4 linked regions of the Homo sapiens genome follow. The protein of the gene in region 1 purifies or fractionates together with the protein of each later gene. This does not show direct contact. Each region holds a gene or a part of one and is shown in the gene's direction. Other genes may lie near its edges.

Region 1 (2,216 bases):
CTATATATCTAGATTCCTAGAAGTAGCCCCATACTCCATTGAAAGTTTTTGGACACATATGAGCGTGGATATTTTGTTGTTTTGTTTTTCCTTTTTTTTTTTTTTTTTTTTAATAAACAGTGCCATGAAAGAACATGGATATTTTGGACGTTAGTTAAGCACTTCTTCCGGTAAAATGCGCAACTCATCATTGTCTAATTTGTATTTTGTAGGAAGGGAGTGAACAGGCACCACTAATGAGTGAAGATGAACTGATTAACATAATAGATGGTGTTTTGAGAGATGATGACAAGAACAATGATGGATACATTGACTATGCTGAATTTGCAAAATCACTGCAGTAGATGTTATTTGGCCATCTCCTGGTTATATACAAATGTGACCCGTGATAATGTGATTGAACACTTTAGTAATGCAAAATAACTCATTTCCAACTACTGCTGCAGCATTTTGGTAAAAACCTGTAGCGATTCGTTACACTGGGGTGAGAAGAGATAAGAGAAATGAAAGAGAAGAGAAATGGGACATCTAATAGTCCCTAAGTGCTATTAAATACCTTATTGGACAAGGGCTTGCTTCAAGCATCTGTATTAGTCTGTATTAATGCTGCTGATAAAGACGTACCCGAGACTGGGAAGAAAAAGAGGTTTACTTGGACTTACAGTTCCACATGGCTGGGGAGGCCTCAGAATCATGGCGGGAGGTGAAAGGCACTTCTTACATGGCAGCAAGAGAAAATGAGGAAGAAGCAAAAGTGGAAACCCCTGATAAGCCATCAGATCTTGTGAAACTTATTCACTATCACAAGAATAGCATGGGAAAGACTGGCCCCCATGATTCAATTACCTCCCCTTGGGTCTCTCCCACAACACGTGGGAATTCTGGTAGATACAATTTCAAGTTGAGATTTGGGTGGGGACATAGCCAAACCATATCATTCTACCCCTGGCCCCTCCAAATCTCATGTCCTCACTATTCAAAACCAATCATGCCTTCCTAACAGTCCCCCAAAGTCTTAACTCTTTTCAGCATTAACGCAAAAATCCACAGTCCAAAGTCTCATCTGAGACAAGGCAAGTCCCTTCCACCTATGAGCCTGTAAAATCAAAAGCAAGCTAGTTACTTCCTAGATACCAACAGGGGTACAGGTATTGATTAAAGACGGCTGTTCCAAATGGGAGAAATTGGCCAAAATAAAGGGGTTACAGGGCCCATGCAAGTCCGAAATCCAGCAGGGCTGTCAAATTTTAAAGTTCCAGAATAATCTCCTTTGACTCCAGGTCTCACATCCAGGTCATACTGATGCAAGAAGTGGGTTCCCATGGTCTTGGGCAGCTCTGCCCCTGTGGCTTTGTAGGGTACAGCCTCCCTCCTGGCTGCTTTCACGGCTGTTGTTCAGTGCCTGCGGCTTTTCCAGGTGCACGGTGCAAGCTGTTGGTGGATCTACCATTCTGGGGTCTGGAGGACGGTGGCCCTCTTCTCACAGCTCCACTAGGCAGTGCCCCAGTAGGGACTCTGTGTGGGGGCTCCCACACCACATTTCCCTTCTGCACTGCCCTAGCAGAGGTTCTCTCCCCTGCCGCTGAGAGGGCCTCTCCCCTGCAGCAAACGTTTGCCTGGGCATTGAGGCATTTCCATACATCTTCTGAAAACTAGGCGGAGGTTTCCAAATCTCAATTCTTGACTTCTGTGCACCTGCAGGCTTAACAGCACATAGAAGCTGCCAAGGCTTGGGGCTTCCACTCTGAAGCCACAGCCCGAGCTGTATGTTGGCCCCTTTCAGCCATGGCTGGAGTGGCTGGGACACAAGACACCAAGTCCCTAGGCTGCACACACATGTCAGGGGCTGCCCTGACATGGCCTGGAGACATTTTCCCCATGGTGTTGGGGATTAACATTAGGCTCCTTGCTACTTATGCAAATTTCTGCAGCTGGCTTGAATTTCTCCCCAGAAAATGGGTTTTTCTTTTCTATTGCATAGTCAGGCTGCAAATTTCCAAACTTTTATGCTTTGCTTCCCTTATTTATAAGGGAATGCCTTTAAAAGCACCCAAGTCACCTGTTGAACACTTTGCTGCTTAGAAATTTCTTCCGCTAGTTAACCTAAATCATCTCTCTCAAGTTCAAAGTTCCACAAATCCCTATGGAAGGGGCAAAATGCTGCCAGTCTCTTTGCTAAAACATAACAAGAGTCACCTTTACTCCAGTTCCCAACA
Region 2 (4,699 bases), on another chromosome or scaffold:
CCTGTTAATATGCGGCTACTTAGCTTTCAATATATAGTTCCTAATACTAATTAAAAGCCATATTCTTCTGGGAGTTTTTAATCTTCAGGCCAAGGAGAGTCATTACATAAAACCAAGATGCTAGAGGCTTCTTTCTTTGAACCTATCCCAACTCTCTTTCAGCTGCTCCTATGGTATACCCATCTAGGAACTAGAAATAGACCACACTGTTGGGCAAGTGGCTCATACACAGGAATCCTTGCTCCTGACCTTCAGAAACCACCCCTCCATCTCTGATTAAAAACAGTCTTCTGTGTTTCATTTTGAAAGGGAAAAGAAACAAGGAAATCATGCTTTTCTTAGGGTATTCCTAAATTCATATTTAGGCTTTAACAATAAAATTTCTAAAGCTTAACCTAAGGATAATGACTTAAAAAAATTTCCCCTCTAATGGTAAATATAGGTCCATTTTAATCTTATTTCATAAACTGCATTTAAAAAAAGGCACATGTCATTATAATACAGGCACAAACCATCTATTCCAAGAATTCTAATTCTAGTTATCATCCAATTATTTGATATTTTATTCCATTTGAAATGATCTATAGATTACAAATCTATAATGACCTCATAGATTTGTAACCTATAAGTAGCTAAACTTTTGTAGAAAATGATTGCGTCCCTTAAAATCAGCATACCCATCAAACGCATTCTGTACTAAACATTTTATTATATAATATATTGGAAGTTTAAAAAATATTTTGTGATTGACTTAGTAAGTGCATTCAAATTTAGAGTCTTGATTTCAGGAGAAAAAAGGCCAAAAAGAGTCATTAGATAAAGCCAAGAAGCAAGAGGTTTCATTTGTTTCTGATCCACTCCACCCCCTTTGAGTTCTTTCTATGTTATACTCAAATAGAAGCAAGAAGTAGATTGTCTTGTCACGTCACATCCTGTATTACGGAGGTAACCAAACTTGATGAAACCTGCCTTGATTACTATTGCTCCCAAAGAATAATATTAATGAAATTTCCTGAATTCTATCCATGATCGTGTTTCTCTTTATATAAATAAAAAATGAATTTGTGTTAGTTGGCATTTCCAGTTTTCTTGGACCCATTGTTTTTGCAGAATAGCAGATTTTGATTCTAAAGAAACTCTTGCCTATATTTCTGAATGTTCCTGCCAGAAACTGAGGTTTTAACATTTCCCCTACCCTACAAGCGCTTTTTAAAAATAGAATTCCTCCTTCAACGCACACATTAACATCTGTTATAATAAATTAACATTCCCATTGTAACTGATTAAGTTGAGACATTCATATGCCTATGTAAATAGAAGGAGGTGATGGGAATGGGTGGCAGGAAGAGGGGATTGATGGGAAAGTCATTTAACAATTTAATAGGTTGATTAGTACCAGTATATCACTTCATACACACAGTAACTATTGCCTGTATATAATTATAAAAAGAAAAATTTGATGGGTACAAAAATAGTTAGAATGAATTAATAAGGCCTAGTATTTGATAGCACAGCAGGGTGACTATAGTCAATAATAATTTAATTGTATGTTTTACAATAAGTATGAGTATATATAATTGGATTATTCGTAACACAGAGGATAAATGCCTGAAAGGATGGATACTCCATCTTCTATGATGTGATTATTATACATTGCATACCTGCATCAAAACATCTCATGTACCCCATAAAAATATACACGTACTATGTACCCACAAAAATTAAAAATTAAAAAAAAAACAGTGGCAACATTTGCAAGACAGTTTAGATCACTTTAATGCATTAGGCCTTTTAAAATCTTTCCATGGGGTACTTGGACCAAAGGAAACCTAAGCCCATTGTTCATCAAAAAAAGACTGTGTGTGTGTGTGTGTGTGTGTGTGTGTGCACGCACTAGCACACGTGCTCACCTGGTTTAGTGCTGAAATATAATTCCTTCAAAATGCTGCTTTCCTTTGACACTGGTTACAATGGGAAACTAGGGGAGGCTTAGAGTAGCTGTCACTTAAGTGTAAAAGGAGTCAGTTATTTCTGGCATCTTTCAAAATTGTGTCATATAAGAAATCAATCTTCTATTGAGGCTTCCTATATTGAAGAAGATTATGACAGCTCCAATATCTTTCACTTCAGTTAAATATTAATAAGTTAAGGTTTCAAATAATGAAATAACTTATAGAAAACATGTTAGATGTTTTTCAAATACATGCACAATAAAACTACTAAAATTTATTAAATGCCTCTATACCCCCCAAAGGATTTGGGGGTTTCTTGATCACTCACCAGCGTTCTATGTTTCTAGAGTCCATCTCCCCTGTATGACAGCCATCACTGTTTAAATGATTTTCTTTAGGCTGATCTCTTTCCTAATCTTAAAGAACAAATAAATTCCACATCCTCTTCTGGGACCGATTCTGGATTCCTATGGAATTATCTCAGAAAATAAGAACTCCTGATATATGTGAGATAACCAACCTAAGTATAATTCTTAAATTGGAGAGATTCTTTAATGTAAACACTAGGCCACCAAACTACTGAAGTTAATTCTCTAGATTAGGGGCCAGCAAACTTTTGTAAAGGGCCAGAAAGAGTCTATTTCCAGCTTTGTGGGCCATTAAATCTCTGTCACAAGTAATCAACTCTGCTGTTGTAGTGTAAAAGCAACCCTACATAATCCATAAACAAATGAGTGAGGCTGTGCTCCAATAAAGCTTTATTTGTGAACATGAAATTTGAATTTTATAGAATTTTCATAAGTTACAAAATAGTCTTGATTCTTTTTCAATGTGTAAAAAATGTAAAATCATTCATATTTTTATCTTTTGGGCCCTACAAAACAGGAAGTAGACTGGATTTGGCCTATGGACTGAGGTTTGCTGCCACCTGCTCTAGATTTTTCCAGTTGCCTCTTTACCATTTCCAACTCTTATAGACTACGATTGAAGCACTGCTTTGTGGCTCCAACTCTTTGCCTTGCATCATCCCTTACTCCCTCTTCCCATCAGAGTTGTTGGTACTAACCTATATCTGAGTGTCGTGTAAATATGGAAAATGGAAATAAGAGCATGTGTATCTACTTTTTAATTAGATGTATTTTATTTTAAAATAAAATACTATTGATTTTACTGATAACAATAGCAACTCTGCATGGAGAATTGCATGACAATAAAAGTTGACAATAAAAATTAAATGCCTGGAACAGCTAAAGGAGATGCATTTTTAGCTGGAAAAAAGCTTAAGAATGATGGACTATTATATAGTAATTTTGTTATTGGTGGTTAATAGCTATCTTGAACTGAGGGCCTCCTGTGTGAGAAAGTACAAATGGATTCTTATAACCACTATTAGGGGAAAATGCAATTAAGTCACTGACAGAGGAATTATCTTTCTACATAGGAAAATATTAATAATAATAAAAAGTGAATAAGTATTCAAATTCTAACTCCACTATAAAAAGAATAAGAAGAAACTAATGGAAATCACATTGGAACAGTTTGAATTAAACATAAGAAAGGACAGTTACAATCCAAAAATTTCAAAGTTTAAGTCAGAGTCCCGCATTAAGAAAAGTGTAAAACTATAGTGAATCCTGTCTTTGGCTTCAAGCAGATGAAGATGATATCTGGAAGTCTTTTTAGACCCCGTTTCTGATAGGATGTGTGGTTTAATTACTTCTAAAAGCTTCCCATTAATGGCTTTGCTAATGCCAAGTACCAATCAATGCACTAGGTTTTCTCTTATGTGGCGAGAGAGAGAGAAGGAGAGAGAGAGAGAGAGAATAATAATGTAGGATTTTGCTTGTCCGTTAGGTAAAAGTCATGCCAAAGGCAAATAGAAATGAACATTTGAAAAGGCATCCAGTGACTGGAAATAGTAAAAAAAAACAACAGTACTGGGGCATGTGGCAGTTTAACTTGTTATTAATTTTAGAAATAGGGTTTAAAAGAAATAGAATTGGCAAGGATCCAGGCCTAAAGCAATGAACAAAGCCAACAAAGCAGTAGGTAAAAATGAGAATAGTAAAAGCCTTTGAAATAAGACTGAAAATTCAAAGCTAAAGTAAGTGGAAAAGGAAGTCAGTAGAGAGATACAAGAAGTGGCATGATATAGGTGTGCTTGGAGGAGAAAAGCATACTTTGCGTAGTGAATTTGATGATGAAATGAAATTATTGAATAGAGCGGAAAAGTAGTCTCTCTCTCTCTCTCTCTCTCTCTCGCTCTCCTCTCTCTCTCTCTCTGTGTGTGTGTGTGTGTGTGTGTTTTGCCTGTCACCATGTTATTTTTTTTTAAGTAGAGAATCTCATTCAAAGGTTGATTCATCAGGATTGCATTTGGTTGCAAGTAGCTAAACCTAATTCCAGTGGCTTGATCAAATTGTCCTACTCAATAAACTTCTGCTTACCCGTCGCTGCCCAGAACTATATCATATGGTGGACCAAAGCTTCAAGGGAACCTGCTAAATTAAATTTCGTTTTTAGCTTGGTGTAGTGCTTCCCTAAGCAGTGTTGTGGTTCTGTTAGTTTAAAAAAGTAGGGTTGGGGGACGCAAGAAATTGGATTAGCAGTTGGCAGTGTCTGCAATAAATAATATGAACTTTTCAAGTCAATCTAGACCTCATGCTTTTGATGAGTTCTCTTAACAGCTTCTCTGCCTTTTAAAAAGTGATTACATTTTCCATCTTTCTTGGTGACATTGTTCTGTT
Region 3 (4,699 bases), on another chromosome or scaffold:
AGGGTCCTCTATATCCTTGCTACTCAAAGTACGGTCCAAGGACCAGCAGTGTCAGCATCACCTGTTGTTAACATTTTACCCTATTGTTTTATAATTTGTGTGTGTACCTGCATGTGTATTCTCTCTATAGATATAGATACACACATGCCTACATGCATACATAACACATGCATGCATCTCTGTATACACACACACACAATTTCTCTGAAGTATTTGAGACTAAGTTGCATACCTCATACCCTTTACCACATCATTTTTTAAAAATGTCAACATATTATTCTACTTTATGGCTTTACCATAATTTATTTAAACAATTTCCATTTTTGGACATCTAGATTGCTTCTAATTGTTCCCTATTATTTATGTCTTTGTACATTCATCTTTACATGAATCCTTAGTTATTCCCTTTCTAGATGTTTCTGCATACTACAGAAGAATATAGGTTTTGAGGTTTAGACCTAGGTTTAACTTTAGCTTCATTACTGTCAGTATGATCTTGGATCTATTGTTTAGAACTTTCATCATCTCAGTCTCCCATCTGGAAAATTTTGTAAGAATTAAATAGGATAACACTTATAAAACACTTAATACAATGCCTGGCACATAGTAAATGCTCATAGTTTGCCATCATTAGTACTAGTATAAATATTTTCAGAAATGGAAGTTTTGGGTTAGACGAGGGGTCCCCAACCTCTGGGCCACAGACTGGTACTGGTCCATGGCCTGTTAGGAACCAGGCCGCACAGCAGGAGGTGAGTGGCAGGTGAGCTTTATCTGTATTTACAGCTGCACCCCATCACTCGCATTACCACCTGAACTCTGCCTCCTGTCAGATCAGTGGCTGCATTAGATTCTCATAGGGACGTGAACCCTATTGTGAACTGTCCCTGCGAGGGATTTAGATTGCATGCTGCCTATGAGAATCTAATGCCTGATGATCTGCCACTGTTTGCCATCACCCCCATATGGGACTGTCTAGTTGCAGGAAAACAAGCTTAGGGGTCCCACTGATTCCACATTATGGTGAGTTGTATAATTATTTCAGTATATATTACAATGTAATAATAGTAGAAATAAAGTACACAATAAATGTAATGCACTTGAATCATCCCAAAACCACGCCCCTCACCCCCAGTCTGTGAAAAAATGTCTTCTGTGAAACCAGTCCCTGGTGCCAAAAAGGACCATTGGGTTAGACTATATCCATATATTTGAGGCTGTTAATACATACTGCCAAATTTTCTCCAGAAAGATTATAATAATTAATACTTTCAGCTCTATCCAAGAGTTTCCATCATTAGCAATACTGAGTATATATTATTATAACGTAGTGTTTAAGGGCATGGAGTATAGAACCAGACTAACTGGATTTGAATTCCATTGCAGACTCTTATTAGCTATAAGAAGTAAGACCTGGCTGAGTGCAGTGGCTCACTCCTATAATCTCAGCACTTTGGTAGGCCAAGGTGGGAGGATTGCTTGAGCCCAGGAGTCCAAGACCAGCCTGGGCAACATAGTGAGACCCTATCTCTACAAAACGTTTTAAAAAAATTAGCTGGAAGTTGTGGCATGCACCTGTGGTCACAGCTGTTCAGGAAGCTGAGGTAACAGCATCAGCATCAGTTGAGCCCAGGAGGTCTAGGCTGCAATGAGCCATGATTGTGCCACTGCTCTCCAGCCTGGGCAACAGAGCAAGACCCTGTCTCTAGAAAAAAAAAAAGAGATCTTTGAGAATTTATAATAGACATAATTATAGCACCTTTCTTACAGATTACTTGAGTAAAACACAATAGTTTTTGACACATAGTGATTGATAAGTGTTAGCTGTTACTAATCAAACTGGTAAATATAAAATAGTTAAAAATAACATCTCATGTAATTTAAATATTAAGCTAAATTATTTTGTTCATTGGCCATTTGTATTTATTTGTTGAAGTGTTGTTTTATGTATTACCCCATTTTGCTATTGTGTTCGGCTTTCTTTGTTGTTTTGTAAGACTTTTTATTGTTAAGGATATTAACTCCTAATTCAAACTATTCTTAATAAAGTAGTTGCATTCTTAACCAAAAAATCTGTGATGAAGCAGCTTTGTGTTTGGATGGACTGCTTGTAAAATGCATGTTCCTCCTCAGACCTGCTCAGATTATTTTGGAGCAAGGCCAAGAAATTTGCAGTTTTATAAGATCCCCAGGTAATTTTTAGGCAAGGAGTCCACTGGCTATTGAAAAATATTGTCCTAGAATGGAGTTGATACTGAGACTTCTGAGTGATTTGACTCAGGCTTGACTCACAAACTAGCTCTGGGGAGGGAGGCTGATATGGAGAGAACAAAGCACAGATGACAATGATTTTCTAAATTGAGCCAGAACTAAATGGGAAAGAAAGATACACATTCAAGAGGATATGTGTTCACATAAAATAGCAGTCATGTAAAATGAAATTACCTGAGCATCTATTATAGAAGCACAAGAAAATACAGTTTCAGCTGTATTCAGGTGTGGTCAGTTATACAGTCTTACTGCTAACCAAACAAAGGGAAATCAAGGCCATGATAGTCTTCCCTCTGACAGTTATCAGGAGGCATCTTAATCTGAGAAAAATCCTGGTTTCTTGAATAAACAAGCTGAGGGGCAGTGCAACCTTAGAGAAGAGAAAGGAAGGGACTTGGAGAGAAATATGAAGGTAGAGAGCATGTGATTTCCTAGGCAATTAACTTTGACTTTTTATTCCTTTAGTCATCCTCTGATAAGTATTTTTAGTATACAATAACTAGCATAAAAAGTTCTTGATGTCTCACTTAGGGGAATATAAAGGAGAGAAATCAGATGAGAACACATAAATAAATGAAGGAAGGAAGGAAAACACTAAGTCCAAACTAGAAAGGTTAAAAAAACAGATTTATAAGATAAAGGATATAGAAGCCAAAATATTTTCCCAGCATACTTCTAATCAATACAATTTGGTACTTGATTATTTGCTTGGTTTGGGAGTAATGTCGCTTCTAATTGAATTTTTTTTCACAATTTGTCCTTTAATAATTACTTAAAATGTATGAGTATAATGTTTATTTGAATGCTGAGTTCCTAAAACATACACTGCTAAGACATTTTATGATTGTAATTCAGATTTTCTTCTTTTGTTTCTATTGACAACAAGCGAAACTTCAATATATGGTTATCTTTATTTTCCAATTCTTAGTCTTGCCTCCAGATTAACTTTGGCTGAGCTAAATCAGATCCTTTACCGATGTGAATCAGAAGAAAAGGAAGATGGTGGAGGGTGCTATGACATACCAAACTGGTCAGCCCTTAAATATGCAGGTCTTCAAGGTAAGCAAATGGAAGGATAGCTGAGCTTTGTGTTTTTCTTTTAGGGTCATCTGGTGTCTTCTTTACAGACATAGATATAGGCTCAGAGTATGCCTACTTGGGTTGCAATTATGGCTCTGCTTCTGCTCATTAATTGACCTTTGGCAAGTAATATAACCTCTTTGTGTGCCAATTTCTGCTTCTATAAAATTTGAATAATATTATCTAATTTAGAAGGTTTTTGTGAGGATTAATGAGATCATTCACATAAAACACTGAAAACAGGATGTAACACAAAGTAATTACCCAGTAAATTTTACCTAGAAATACTAGTTCTATCTCTTTCCTTAAGGTCTGTATAGCTCTTTATGTATACTTGGACCTTGATTAATGTTTCTTGACCTGGTTTATTATATAATAAACAGAATATTCTTGTTTGGGCCCCAAGTGGGATTAGGTTGTAAATATAATCCATTCACCTTTTTTTAAATCTAATTGGAAATATATTTTATTGCATATTTGTTTTATCCTGTAAAGAGAACTTACAGTAAAACATACAGTAGTTGTAAGATGAGTTAAAGGAATTAAGTATTTATCAGTTTTATTCATCTAGTTGGTAATATTTACTTAGATGTTTAAGAAATTTGCTTTATCACACCTGTATTCCTGGTTCATATAGTTTTCACTTATGCCTTTTGTTCAACTCTTTATTTCTTTCTCCATCTAACCTATCTTTAAGGACTAATTTAATTCTTGCATCTTTCATAAAACCTTCTTTAACTATTGCTTTTTACAGTAATTTCTTTGTCCTCCAGACACCATTGCATTTATTTTCTATACCTCTTACTTGGCCCTTGAAATATATTGCCTTATTTTGATAGTTAGTATAATGATTTTTGTGAATCTTTATCATTGTGATTAAGAAACAGGCTTTAAAACCAGATTTCCTGGGTTACATTGACTAGTTTTATAACCTGAAGTAAATGCTCTATGGCTTACTTTTCCCCTGCAAAATGGTACCTACCACAGGGATTATGGTTAGGATTAATGAATTAATACATGTGAACAGCTCATTAGACGACACCTAATTCATACTAAGTAATTGGAAATTGTTAGCCTTAAAACCACACTAAGTAGGCTGCACACTTTCAGAAAGAAGAATTAAGTTTTATCTTTTTTATGCTTCTTGTCTTTTAGCTTTTATACTTTCTGCAAAACCAAGCACGTAAGCGGTTCTCAATAAACTTTTTTGAGACTTTTTGGATTTATGATCTTTTTTTCTAAAATATTCTCATTTTTAATACAAAATGTTTTGTGCTATGAGTAAGAAAGAAGTGTATGTGAGCCAGACATGGTGGCTTCCACCTGTAATCTCATGCTTTGGGAGGCC
Region 4 (3,920 bases), on another chromosome or scaffold:
CTAGCAGGCTGAGCCACAGCCTCCTCTTCTGAAAAATGGGTACCTGGTGTGTTGGTTGCTGCAGCTCATATGGCTTCTAGTGAGATCACAGATATGAACATGCTGAACACCAGAGGCATTCACACTTTATTTTTTAAAGTTGATGGAACTTCCAGGGGTGGTGGACCTTCTTGAGTCTCGGCTTCTAAGGCATTCTGCTCCAGCCTAGCCATTGCCTGGGTCAATTTCTCCTCCCTCCTGTAAGGGCATCTAAGAATGGGGAGGCTGTGGGTCACACTGGGCACATCCCGGGGTCCTGGGAAGCAGGTCCTGACTCCCTGCTCTATTGCCTGCAGCGATCGGCTGGCCCTTCTCCAGGTCAGGAGGATTCTGCAGCAGCTGGGCCTGGACAGCACGTGTGAGGACAGCATCGTGGTGAAGGAGGTGTGCGGAGCCGTGTCCCGGCGGGCGGCCCAGCTCTGCGGTGCTGGCCTGGCCGCTATAGTGGAAAAAAGGAGAGAAGACCAGGGGCTAGAGCACCTGAGGATCACTGTGGGTGTGGACGGCACCCTGTACAAGCTGCACCCTCAGTGAGTGCCCACAAGAGGCGTGGCGGGTGGGGCTGGGGAGGGCTGGCGGCCAAGTGTGGACTTGGCATAGCCTCCTGAACTGCGGCATGGGAAGATGCATCCCCGTCCTTTTATGGGAAAGGAGTGCTGTGTGGTCAAGTCACCTATTCAATCTGACAGACAAGGTGTGAGCCCTGGTGCCTCTGCTACCTGGTAATACGATGTGGGAATGTTAGCCGGCCTCTCTAAACCCCAGGTTCCTCATCCACAAAAGGCCAGCACTAATAATCCCTACCACATAGGGCTAAATGTGTGAGGTTGAAATGAGTTAGCACATGTAAAGTGCTTCACACGGGGCTCAAGAAATGTAAGTTGGCTGAGTGCAGTGGCTCATGCCTGTAATGGCAGACGGGAGGATCACTTGAGCCCAGGAGTTTGAGACCAGCCTGGGCAACACAGGGAGACTCCATTTCCACAAACATAAATAAATAAAATACAAAATGAACAAAAATTACAAATATTAGCTGGGCGTGATAGTGCATACCTGTGGTCCCAGCTACATGGGAGGCTGAGCTGGGGGGCTTGAGCCTGGGAACTCGAGGCTGCAGTGGGCTGTGATTGCACAACTGCAGTCTACACCCTGGGCAACAGAGTGAGACCATGTCTAAAAAAAAAAAAAAATTAGAAGAAGCTGTTTAGAGCCTTGAAAAGCAAACCAAAGGGAAGAAGCTAAAGAAATTAGATTATGATCATTTATAAATGTTCTGATTCTACATGGAAGGGCTGATGATGTTTCTTTCTCTTTTTCATAGCTTTTCTAGAATATTGCAGGAAACTGTGAAGGAACTAGCCCCTCGATGTGATGTGACATTCATGCTGTCAGAAGATGGCAGTGGAAAAGGGGCAGCACTGATCACTGCTGTGGCCAAGAGGTTACAGCAGGCACAGAAGGAGAACTAGGAACCCCTGGGATTGGACCTGATGCATCTTGGATACTGAACAGCTTTTCCTCTGGCAGATCAGTTGGTCAGAGACCAATGGGCACCCTCCTGGCTGACCTCACCTTCTGGATGGCCGAAAGAGAACCCCAGGTTCTCGGGTACTCTTAGTATCTTGTACTGGATTTGCAGTGACATTACATGACATCTCTATTTGGTATATTTGGGCCAAAATGGGCCAACTTATGAAATCAAAGTGTCTGTCCTGAGAGATCCCCTTTCAACACATTGTTCAGGTGAGGCTTGAGCTGTCAATTCTCTATGGCTTTCAGTCTTGTGGCTGCGGGACTTGGAAATATATAGAATCTGCCCATGTGGCTGGCAGGCTGTTTCCCCATTGGGATGCTTAAGCCATCTCTTATAGGGGATTGGACCCTGTACTTGTGGATGAACATTGGAGAGCAAGAGGAACTCACGTTATGAACTAGGGGGATCTCATCTAACTTGTCCTTAACTTGCCATGTTGACTTCAAACCTATTAAGAGAACAAAGACTTTGAAGTATCCAGCCCCAGGGTGCAGAGAGGTTGATTGCCAGGGAGCACTGCAGGAATCATTGCATGCTTAAAGCGAGTTATGTCAGCACCCTGTAGGATTTTGTTCCTTATTAAGTGTGTGCCATGTGGTGGGGTGCTGTCTGGGGCATCTGTTTTTCATTTTGCCTGTGGTTTGTGTTGCAGGTGTTGATAGTTGTTTTAAGGATTGTTAGGTATAGGAAATCCAGTAAATTAATAAAAAAATTTTGATTTTCCAATAAACTTTGCATGAAGTGGTGATATTTCTTCTGGGAGGCTCACTTGGTAATACCATGCTTTGTTGATGGAATAAGGGATGCAGAGTCAGAAGGAGCTTGAGCATTTTTCTCGAGTCCAAACTTCCTACCAACAGGGGTAATATATGGAATATCTTCTACAATATCCTTAACAGATTATCCAGATGTCTTTAGAATACTTCCAGTAACTGAGCATTTCCCACATGATCCTACAGCTCTTGCTTTTGAACGGCTGGAGTGGACTGGAAGTCCTTCTGACTTCTGAGCTCGGTTCCTCCCATACACCCCACTGATCTCCATTCTACCCTGCAGAACTATGTGTAATAGGCCTGTCCCTGACCATTTCTCCAGTGGACTTCCTCTCTCTCTCCTCTCTTCCCCACTTTACCTGAACTGCCTGTGCCTTTCTGTTCTGCCACATAGTTATCTGTATGAGTTTCACATCTGGCCAGATAGATTGTAAACTCTTTGTCAAACACATTCTTGTATTGCTCTAGTGAACCTAGCACTGTGCCATTCCTATCAAATACTTACTTGTGGGAGGCATGATTGAAGAAATAGAACTTTTCAAGAAATTTTCTTCAGATAAAGTATAGACTGGGTATGGTGGCTCACACCTGTAATCTCAGCACTTTGGGAGGCCAAGTCTGGAAGATTGCTTGAGGCCAGGAGTTCAAGATCAGCTTGGGCAACATATCAAGACCCCCATCTGTACAGAAAAATTTTTAAAATTAGTTGAATGTGGTGGTGCACACCTGCAGTCCCAGCCACTCAGGAGGCTGAGGTGCGGGGTATCTCTCGAGTCTAGGTTTGAGGTTACAATGAGCTATGACTGCACCACTGCACTGCAGCCTGGGCAACGGAAAGAGACCCTGCTTCTTAAAAAAAAAAAGAGAGAGAGAAAGAGAAAGAAATGAAAGAAAGAAAGAAAGAAAAAGAAAGAAAGAGAAAGAAAGAAAAGGAAGGAAGGAAGGAAAGAGACAACTATTGTCATGGGAAACAAACTGAAAAGAATAATCCACAGTGATTTTATTTGTATTTATGTGCTTAATTACATACTTAAGTATGACAACTCCACAGAGTGCTCTTGCTGTCTCTTCAAAAGATTATGGCTTTGGTCAGGCGTGGTGGCTCATGCCTGTAATCCTAGCACTTTGGGTGGCTGAAGCAGGCAGATCACTTGAGTTCAGGAGTTTGAGACCAGCCTGGCCAGCATGGTGAAACCCCGTCTCTACTAAACATACAAAAAAAAAAAAAAATAGCCGGGCGTGGTGGTGTATCCTTGTGATCCCAGCTACTTGGGAGGCTGAGTCAGGAGAATCACTTGAACCTGGGGGGTGGAGGTTGCAGTGAGCCGAGATTGAGCAACTGCACTCCAGTCTGGGTGACAGAGCGAGACTCTGTCTCAAAAAAAAAAAAAGTTTTTGGATTCCAGCTCTAAGCGTCACCATTTGCTGAAGCGGGATGTCCAGATGGAGTGAAGGGGGCTGAGTCTAAAGACGGAGAGAGAGAGAGGCCAGCTAGGGCTGGGGATAATGAGGGAGCTGAGGGTTCCCCAGGACATATTTTTTACACTTTCTTTTTTGTTGTTTTTTGAGACAAG

The links.
Region 2: the proteins of MCFD2 (region 1) and KLHL13 purify together in Homo sapiens (affinity purification with mass spectrometry; one large-scale study listed by BioGRID and IntAct). This does not show direct contact.
Region 3: the proteins of MCFD2 (region 1) and AGL fractionate together in Homo sapiens (co-fractionation; one large-scale study listed by BioGRID). This does not show direct contact.
Region 4: the proteins of MCFD2 (region 1) and HKDC1 purify together in Homo sapiens (affinity purification with mass spectrometry; one large-scale study listed by BioGRID and IntAct). This does not show direct contact.

The regions. Positions count from the first base shown.
Region 1 is NC_000002.12:46,903,591-46,905,806, reverse strand, and holds part of MCFD2 (multiple coagulation factor deficiency protein 2 isoform A precursor), read left to right. Parts: intron 1-212; coding exon 213-344; 3' UTR 345-2,216. UniProt on the Homo sapiens protein: The MCFD2-LMAN1 complex forms a specific cargo receptor for the ER-to-Golgi transport of selected proteins. Plays a role in the secretion of coagulation factors.
Region 2 is NC_000023.11:117,902,694-117,907,392, reverse strand, and holds part of KLHL13 (kelch-like protein 13), read left to right. Parts: intron 1-4,699. UniProt on the Homo sapiens protein: Substrate-specific adapter of a BCR (BTB-CUL3-RBX1) E3 ubiquitin-protein ligase complex required for mitotic progression and cytokinesis.
Region 3 is NC_000001.11:99,884,779-99,889,477, forward strand, and holds part of AGL (glycogen debranching enzyme), read left to right. Parts: intron 1-3,199; coding exon 3,200-3,330; intron 3,331-4,699. UniProt on the Homo sapiens protein: Multifunctional enzyme acting as 1,4-alpha-D-glucan:1,4-alpha-D-glucan 4-alpha-D-glycosyltransferase and amylo-1,6-glucosidase in glycogen degradation.
Region 4 is NC_000010.11:69,265,250-69,269,169, forward strand, and holds the end of HKDC1 (hexokinase HKDC1), read left to right. Parts: intron 1-335; coding exon 336-569; intron 570-1,360; coding exon 1,361-1,508; 3' UTR 1,509-2,303; downstream 2,304-3,920. UniProt on the Homo sapiens protein: Catalyzes the phosphorylation of hexose to hexose 6-phosphate, although at very low level compared to other hexokinases. Has low glucose phosphorylating activity compared to other hexokinases. Involved in glucose homeostasis and hepatic lipid accumulation.